2 separate regions of the Homo sapiens genome follow, and region 1 is linked to region 2. The links come from fine-mapping of genetic effects on gene expression. A gene starts in region 2. The other region holds a variant in brackets. All regions are shown on one strand. Distances are from middle to middle.

Evidence for each region. PIP is the estimated chance that this variant, and not a neighbour inherited with it, causes the effect.
Region 1: its variant is the best candidate, but not a certain one, in a credible set for the expression of PRRG4 in whole blood (INTERVAL, PIP 0.50).

What each region holds. Positions count from the first base shown.
Region 1 is chr11:32,871,556-32,875,952 of GRCh38, reverse strand. No RefSeq gene overlaps it. Among named protein-coding and RNA genes, the nearest start is that of QSER1, 19 kb to the left of the region's middle. The variant A/G (reference allele first, on the strand shown) is at 1,835.
Region 2 is chr11:32,827,196-32,831,581 of GRCh38, reverse strand. PRRG4 (proline rich and Gla domain 4) reads right to left here and starts at 1,655. Exons shown (of 6, transcript NM_024081.6): 1 at 1,409-1,655; 2 at 950-1,074. The coding sequence starts at 1,052. It also overlaps a transcript of CCDC73 not described here. RefSeq lists enhancers at 959-1,018, 1,029-1,078 and a silencer at 1,499-1,878.

The sequences.
Region 1 (4,397 bases), 44 kb before region 2:
TTCTTTCTTTTTTTCTTTGTAACTATTTATTTTGACATAAAGAAGGTTAAAGAATAGTACAAAGAACTCCCTTATATCCGTTATTAACATTCCCTAAATATCAATATTTATATTAGCTATCAATCACTCTCTGTCTTACCATTCTATTCAACATTGTACTGGAGGTCTAGCCAGAGCAATAAGGTGAGAAAAATAAATAAAGTACATATAGGACAAAAATTAAAAAGTAAAACACTTTTTATTTGTGAATGTCATAAAAATCTGAAGGAATCTAAATTTGAAAAGTATAACTGATTGTCTTAGTTCATTTTGTGCTGCTATAACAAAATATCTAAGGCTGAGTAATTTAAAATAAACAGAAATTTATTGAGTCATGGTTCTGGAGACTGGGAAGTCCAAGATTGAGGGGCTGGCATCTTGTGAAGGCCTTCTTGCTGCATCATCTCAGGGCAGAAGGCAAAAAGACAAGAGAGAGAGAGAAAGGAGAGAGAGAGAGAGAAGGGGTTCAAACTTGAACCTGCCATTTTATAACAAACCCATTCTGAAATAATGAACTTGCTTCTGCGATGATGGCCTTAATCCATTCATAGGGTTAGAGCCTCATGGCTTAATCACCTCTCATTAGGCTCCACTTCTCAATAACGTTACATTGAGGATTAAGTTTCCAACATATGCTTTTTGGAGAATACGTTAAAAACATAGTATTCTATCCTTGGCCCCCCAAATTCACATCCTTCTCACAAGCAAAATATATTAATTTTATCCTAATAACACCAAGTCTTTTTTTTTTTTTTTTTTTTTGAGACGGAGTCTGGCTCTGTCGCCCAGGCTGGAGTGCAGTGGCACAATCTCGGCTCACTGCAAGCTTCGACTCCCGGGTTCACGCCATTCTCCTGCCTCAGCCTCCTGAGTAGCTGGGATTACAGGTGCCCACCACCACGCCTGGCTAATTTTTTGTATTTTTTAGTAGAGACAGGGTTTCACCGTGTTAGCCAGGATGGTCTCGATCTCCTGACCTCGTGATCCACCTGCCTCAGCCTCCCAAAGTGCTGGGATTACAGGCGTGAGCCACTGCGCCCGGCCAACACCAAGTCTTAACTCATTCCTGCACCAGTTCAAAAGTCCAAAGTCCAGAGTCTCATCTATATTAGATATGGGAGAGACTTATGGCACAATTCATTCTGAGGCATACTTCTTCCAGCCTTGAGCCTGTGAAACCAAACATGTTCCACTATGCACTGTCCTAATGGGGACTCTGTGATGCCTCCAGGATACTCTCTGCTGTGGCTCTGACCCTGCACCACATTTCTGCCTGGGACCCCAGGCTGTCCGAGATATTCCTTGAAATCTAGGTGAGGGCTGCCATGGCCCATAGCTTGCACCCTCTTGGCATCTGCAGAGTTGGCACACATGTGAACACTGCCAAGATTTAGAGCTTGTGCCCTCTGGAGCAGCATCACATGCTGCACCTGGCCACACTTGAGCCAGGGCTGGGGTGGCCAAGCAGTGCTGTGCTGGAATGCAGGGAGCAGAGACTTGAGGGAATGCAGGTAGTAAATGCTGATTATCTGCTGGTGCTTCTCTGGAAAGCTCACCCTCAATACCCTGCTCTTGCCTGTGATGGGAGGGGCAGCCCCATTCTCCCATTGTCTTTGTGGGATAAATAGCATCTGACTCCCCTCCATCCCTACTAATCCCTTTAGTAAACAGTTGCTTTGCCACACCCTTGGTTTGCTCTTCTAAACATGACTTTTCACTCTTTACATGGCCAGGCTGGACATTTTCCAAGTCTTTCTATTCTGCTTCCCTTTTAAATGATAAATGCCATCTTTAA[A/G]TCATGCGTGTCCACTCTAAATTTACCACATATAGTTAAGAGAAGCCACGCAGCTTCATAATGCTTTGCTTCTTAGATTTTACTTCAGCCAGATGTCCTAGTTCATGGTTCTTAAGTTCTGTCTTCCATAAAGCCCTTGAGCATGGACACAATTCAGCTAACTTGTGTGCCACTTTATAACAAGGATGACCCATTTTCCAGTTTCCAATACCTTGCTCCTCATTTTCATCTGAGACTCATCAGAATAGTCTTCACTGTCCACATTTCCACCAACATTCTGGTCACGACCATTTAAGCAGTCTCTAAGAAATTTCAGACTTTCCTAACAGCTATCTCTTCTTCTGAGCCTTAATGCTCTGTACAGGTTTTTTTTTTTTTCTAGGCTTCTCCTCCAAATTCTTCAGCTTCTACCCATTACCCACTTCCAAAGTCACTTCCACATTTTCAGGTATTTGTTATAACAATACCCCACTTCTCCGGTACCAATTTTCTATTTTTGCTTTTTTGTGCTACTGTAACAGGATGCCCAAGAACAGAGATTTATTTGGCTCATGGTTCTGGTGGCTGGGAAGTCCAAGACTGAGAGGCTGGCAAGGGACTGCTTGCTGTGTGATCTCATGGCAGAAGGTAAGAGGGCAAGAAAGAGAATTTTACAATGAACCCACTTCTACAATAATGAACTCACTTCCACAATAACATCACTAATTTATTCATGAGGGTGGAGCCCTCAAGGCCTAATTGCCTGTCATTAGTTCTTACTTGCCAACACTCCTGCATTGGGGATTAAGTTTTCAATACATGCTTTTGGGGGAACACATGCAAACCATAGCACTAAAAGTTGAATTTAGCAAGATCGTAGGATACAAGTTCAATAACCAAATATTAATTATATTTTTATATACTAACAATAAGCAATTGGAAAATAAATTTTTTTAAAATCAAGGTATAATTCGTGTACCATAAAACTCACCATTTAAAAGTATACAATACAGTATTTGTTGCTTTTTGTTTTTGAGATGGAGTCTCCCTCTGTTGCCCAGGATGGAGCGCAGTGGCACAATCACGGCTCACTGCAACCTCCGCCTCCTGGGTTCAAGCGATTCTCCTGCCTCAGCCTCCCGAGTAGCTGGGACTACAGGCATGCCCCATCACGCCGGGCTAGTTTTTTTGTACTTTTAGTAGAGACGGGGTTTCACCACATTGGCCAGGCTGGTCTTGAACTTCTGACCTCGTGATCTGCCCATCTCAGCCTCCCAAAGTGCTGGGATTACAGGCATGAACCATTGTGCCCGTCCAGTGGTTTTTAATATGTACTTAAAATTGTGTAAACATCACCAGTATCTAATTCTAGAGCATTTACATCACCCTGAAAAAAAACCTCTTATCTATTGGCACTTGCTCATCATTTCCCATTCCGCACAGTTCCTGTCAATGGCTAATCTACTTTCCATTTTTATGGATTTGCTTATTCCGACATTTCATATAAATGGAATCACCCGATATATGTGGGCTTTTGTGTCTGGCTTCTTTCACTTACTGAAATGCTTTCAAGGTTTACCAATGTTGTAGCATGTGTCAGTACTTCATTCCTTTTTCTAACTGAATAATATCCCCTTGTATGTATATACTACTTTTTGTTTATTCACTCATAGGTTGATGAACATTTGGGAGTTTCCACTTTTTGGTTATTACGCATAATGCTGCTATAAACAATTTTTTATGTGAACATACGTTTTCAATTCTCTTGAAAACATAATTGGAATTCTCTTGGAAAGAAAGTTGGAAAATTAAATTTTAAAGATGTCATCTAGAACAGTGTAAAAAGACATTAAGTACTTAAGGATGAATTTAACAAAATAGACGTAACTCCTATATACCGAAACCTATAAACATTGCTGAGATAAATTTAAAAGATCTTAATACATGAGAAAACATACTATGGGCTGGGCACAGTGGATCACACCTGTAATCCCAGGATTTTGGGAGGCTGAGGCAGGCAGATCATTTGAGGTCAGGAGTTCGAGACCAGCCTGGCCAACATGGTGAAACCCTGTCTCTACAAAAAGTACAAAAATTATCTGGGCATGGTGGCATGCACTTGTAATTCCAGCTGCTCAGGAGGCTGAGGCAGGAGAATCACTTGAACCTGGGAGGCAGATGTTGTAGTGAGCTGAGATCGCACCGCTGCACTCCAGCCTGGGCAACAGAGCAAGACTTTGTCTAAAAAAACAAACAAACAAACAAAAAAACTATGGATTGTTTAATACATGTAAGTTTTTCTATAAATTAAATGCAATTCTAGTCAAATTTTCAGCAGTCTTTTGATTTAGAAATTGACTAGCTAATTCCAAAATGTATGCAATGTTAAATGTATTAAATAGCCAAAAATTTTTTGGGAAAGAACAAAGTTTGAGAACTTAGACTACTTCTTTTGAAGACTTATGACAAGGCTACAGTCATCAAGATAATATGATATTGATATAAGGATAAACTATGATCAGTAAAACAGAACCCCATATGTGTGATCAATTGATTTTCAGCAAAGGTACCAAGATAATTCAGC
Region 2 (4,386 bases):
ATCTCTCCCTCTCTCTCTAGCTAGCCTATCCAGTTGCTAGAATTCTGTCATCAGAGTTTCACGCCTTTGGGTTAATGGATTGTTCTAGCTCAACACACACAAACACAGCTGTATTAATCATTAATAAAGTCAGTTAGGAGTACTAGTGTAACAGATCCTTCCCAAATGAAAATGAGCTGAGAATCGGATCTGATGAGAAGGGATAAGAGACAGGAATGTGTGGGGACGTGGATCCAGAGTACTGACACTGAGTGGGGAAGCACCATGAATAGTCAGGGAGAAGGATGCTGAGAGACAGAGGCTTTTTTTTTCTTCTGGTTTTACTAGGTTAGGCTTTTAAGATATAGGCAGGAAACAAACTGTTAATGATCTGAAACCTAAAAACTGTGGACTTCCAGGTTAGCAAGCCCCAAACCTAATCTTTTCTCAACTAGCTGCTTTTATCTAGACAACTAGACCATCTGAAGTCAAAAAGGACCTCAGAGATCATTTTACGCCCCACCCGCATCACTTTTACAGATGAAGACATTCAAGCCAAACGGGATTAAGTTATCTCGCCCAGGGTCTCGCAAGTCCAGACTAGATCCTGGACTCCCCGTTCGCCTCTCCAGGAAGAACAAGTAATTATGCTTATTATAATCGCCACACAGCTTCATCTAGAGAAATGTCACTCACTGATTTTCAGAAGCTGAAATAGGTTTTCCATTCAATTAACCACAAACTAGGTCTTACGTATATACTTATTAAAGGAGACTCACAGACATCAAATTCTATAAATTGCAGTTAAAGAACATAAAAAAACACAACCTTGCCAAATATGCCACAAATTAAACTAAAGGATATTTTAGTGTTTCTATGATTGCTGGGGGTATGTAATTTCAAATACTGCACTTTCTCACTGAGATCTGTGCTATGCGGCTCTGGGTTCCAGGGACGTTTTAGTGCTTACCTTCTTCTCCCGCATGCTTAGAAGCCTTTGGACCTCTTGCGCAATGAGGAAACCCCAGGGTAACTGTGGGCAGTTGGCTGAGTAGAACCAGAAGCGTAAACATAGTCTGGCAACTGTCAAACAAACTAAAACAAACAAAAAAAAATATTAAAAAAAAAAGGCCCCTAGCTCAGCACTTTGAGTTTCTGTCGAACTGAATCACCAACCTGTTGTACTCAAAGCCTAGGCGCAAGAGCGCCCGGCGCGCGGTTTCGGTCGCCGGAACCCGACGCGCGCCCAGGAAGCAGCCCCTGAGAGCGCCTGGGACAAACGCCGTGCCCAGTGACCCTGCCGAGGGCTGATCGGGCACCTGTCGCCGCGGGCAACCCTCGCTATGTGTTCGAATCCAACCCAGTCCGCCGAGGTGGCCCCTTCCAGGTAACCCCCTCCCCGCCGAGGTCCTGCCGCCAGGCCTCGTACCTGTGTCCCCCCGCACATGTTCCAGCAGCCCCCGGGCCAGAGGCTCTTCTTGGGGCGGTTCCTTCGGCCGCCAGGCCCTCGGTCTCCGGCGCCCTCAAACCTCGGCGACGCTCCGGGCCTCGCTCTCCGCAGGGTCTGGATGGCCCCCGCGCGCAAACCTGGGAAGGGCCTGGGGTTCGCAGAGGGGCGCCCGGGGAACACGCGCGGGGTGAGGTCCTGCCTCGGTCCGGGGAGGCGGCCGACGGAGGACGGGAGGAGGCGGCTACCTGGGGACACCTGGCCGCGCCCCACCTCCCGGGGGCCGGGCCTACCTGCGGCGAGCGGGCGGGCAGTGGGCCGGCGTCTCCCGGGAGCCCGCGCTGCGCTCTCAGCCGCCCCAGCTTCTGCCCCATCCCCGGGCGGGCCAGCCGCCTGCCGCCAGTTCTGGCCCCGCCTTGGCGGCGCGGGTGGCTGCTTTTCGATTTGTGTCTGCACTCGGCGTTCTCAATGATCCTAATTCAGGAAGCATTTCGGTTCTCAGTCTTAAGCAGAGCGCCCTCGGCGCGTCCAGGGCTTTTCGCTTTGGGTCCCACTGGGCCAGGAGTCCTGTGGTTACCTTAGGTCAACTGTTCTCAAAAGGGTGGTCCGGGGACGAGGACAAGATATTCATCAGACAAAATACCCTTTATTCGTGATAAGAAATGGAAATGACCTTACAAGTAATTGATTACATTGGTTCTCCAATGGTGGTCCGCCAGGTCTGGGATGTCTCCAAGATCTTTTCCAGGGGTCTCTGAGGGCAAAACTATTTCCATTATAGTAACAATAAATGATTTGCCATTTTCACTTTCATTCTCTCAAGAGTGTACAGTGGAAATTTCCAGGGGCTATTTGAAGTGTAATAACGTCATCATTCTGTCTCCTAATAGAATACCTGAGTGAGCGTGCTTGTATTTTCTGGTATTTTCCATAGTAGTATGTTTACATTATCAGTATGTACATTTTATAGAGATTTATGTAGATTTATAGAGATTAATAAAATTTGTTCTCAGTACTTGTGAACTTAATTTTTTTTCTTTCCTTTTTTCTTTTTCAGAGTAGGGGGTCTCACTTTGTTGCCCAGGAACTCCTGGGCTCAAGAGATCCTCCTGTCTCATCCTCCAGAGTAGCTGGGACTACAGGTGTCCACCAACTCTCTTGGCTACTGCTTTTGTACTTTGATTAGTTCTATTTGTTCATATCTACTAGGATAGCTATAACCTCATTTTTCTGAAGTAATTATCTTGAAATCTTGATCTTTTCCTTGAGTCTATGCATAAACATAACAAAAAGTAAGCTTTGTTGTCTTGATTTCAAATAATATTTTGAAAATTTCTCAGTTTTAATGTTAGATAATAAATATCATTAGATAAAATTCACATAAGTGAAAGCTCTTTGGGGTCCTTGATAATGTAAAAGAGCGTAAAAAGGTCTTGATTAAAGACTTCAAAAACTGCTGCATCAAGTAATGAAGGCAGCAGGTGGACAGAGTACCTATGCCAGGTGATGGTCACATCCTTCTTTATCCAAAGAACGTGCTTAACAGTTCTTTGAAACACTATTTATGCTTTGGTCGAAGTGGTCTGGCACTTGCTGGGGACCAAGGGAAACATTTTTTCCCCCTTCATTTTTTTTTTTTTTTTCTTGAGACAGAGTCTTGCTCTGTCACCCAGGCTGGAGTACAGTGGCACAATCTTGGCTTACTGTAACCTTCGCCTCCTGGGTTCAAGCGATTCTCCTGCCTCAGCCTTCCGAGTAGCTGGGATTACAGGCATCCACCACCACGCCCGGCTAATTTTTTGTACATTTAGGAGAGAGGGGTTTTCACCATGTTGGCCAGGTTGTTCTCAAACTCCTGACCTCAGGTGATCCACCTACCTCGGCCTCCCAAAGTGCTGGGATTACAGGCATGAGCCACTGTGCCCGGCCTCAAATTTTTGACTAATTCAATTTTTACCAAATTCTGTTTTTCTCCTCCCAAAGGATATTGTCTATTTTATTATTATTATTGATAATCAACTGAATTATTCCTAAGTTTTCTGCAGAAATTTTGTTTTCACTGATTCCTTCTAGGCAGTGCTTTTCCTTTCCCTTCTTCCAATCCCTTCCTCTTCACTTTCCATTTGTCTACCTCGTGGTCTAAACTATTTCTATGATGGATTCTTCTTTCCCTCTTATTCAAGCAATTGGGATCAGACTATGAAGAGGCCAGACATGGTTTATTGTGGTTGAACACAAGAATAGGAAACATTTTCACTAGAACACCCATTTTCCTGTTTATTCATTGAGTCAACCTACAGCACTGAGACCTCCTGGTGGGGAGATGGACACCACAGCTTCTGTTGTGGAGGAGAACTTAATCTGACTGAGACCTATATCTGAGAATGTGGGCCTGTAAAGTTCTTATCAAGTGCAAGAACTGACTTATTCATTTTTGCATTCTCGACAGTACCCAGGGGAGTGCTTTCTACATTGTTCGTGCTGAATACATTTTCATGGAGTGGAAGCAATTTATCTTCAGGTAGGAAAAGTGCTTCATTTCCCACTACTTTGGGGAGAGGCCAATGGTCAAATGCCTCATGCTATGGAATCAGCAGTTGTGAACTTTGATGACATTCCTTGGTAAAATGAGTCTGCCCACATATCTGGATATTTGGACCAAAACAAATGAGGCCTTGTGCTGACATCAAATATCAGAGTTTATAGACAGAGAGGGAGGCAGACAGAGAAATGAAGTCTGTTTCTCAGTAGTGAATTACATCCCTGTGTGTTTCCCTGTAACATTGAGTCCTAGAGAATGTTACAGCATTTGGCAGCATGCACACAAACTTCAGTCACTACGGAGCTGCAAGATATTTTGAGGTTAGATGGCAAAGAGAGAAATGAGAAAAGCCAGTAACAACAATGCCCAAGAGAGCTGATTTCTTCTATTATTTCCTTGCTGTATTAATTTTATTTTG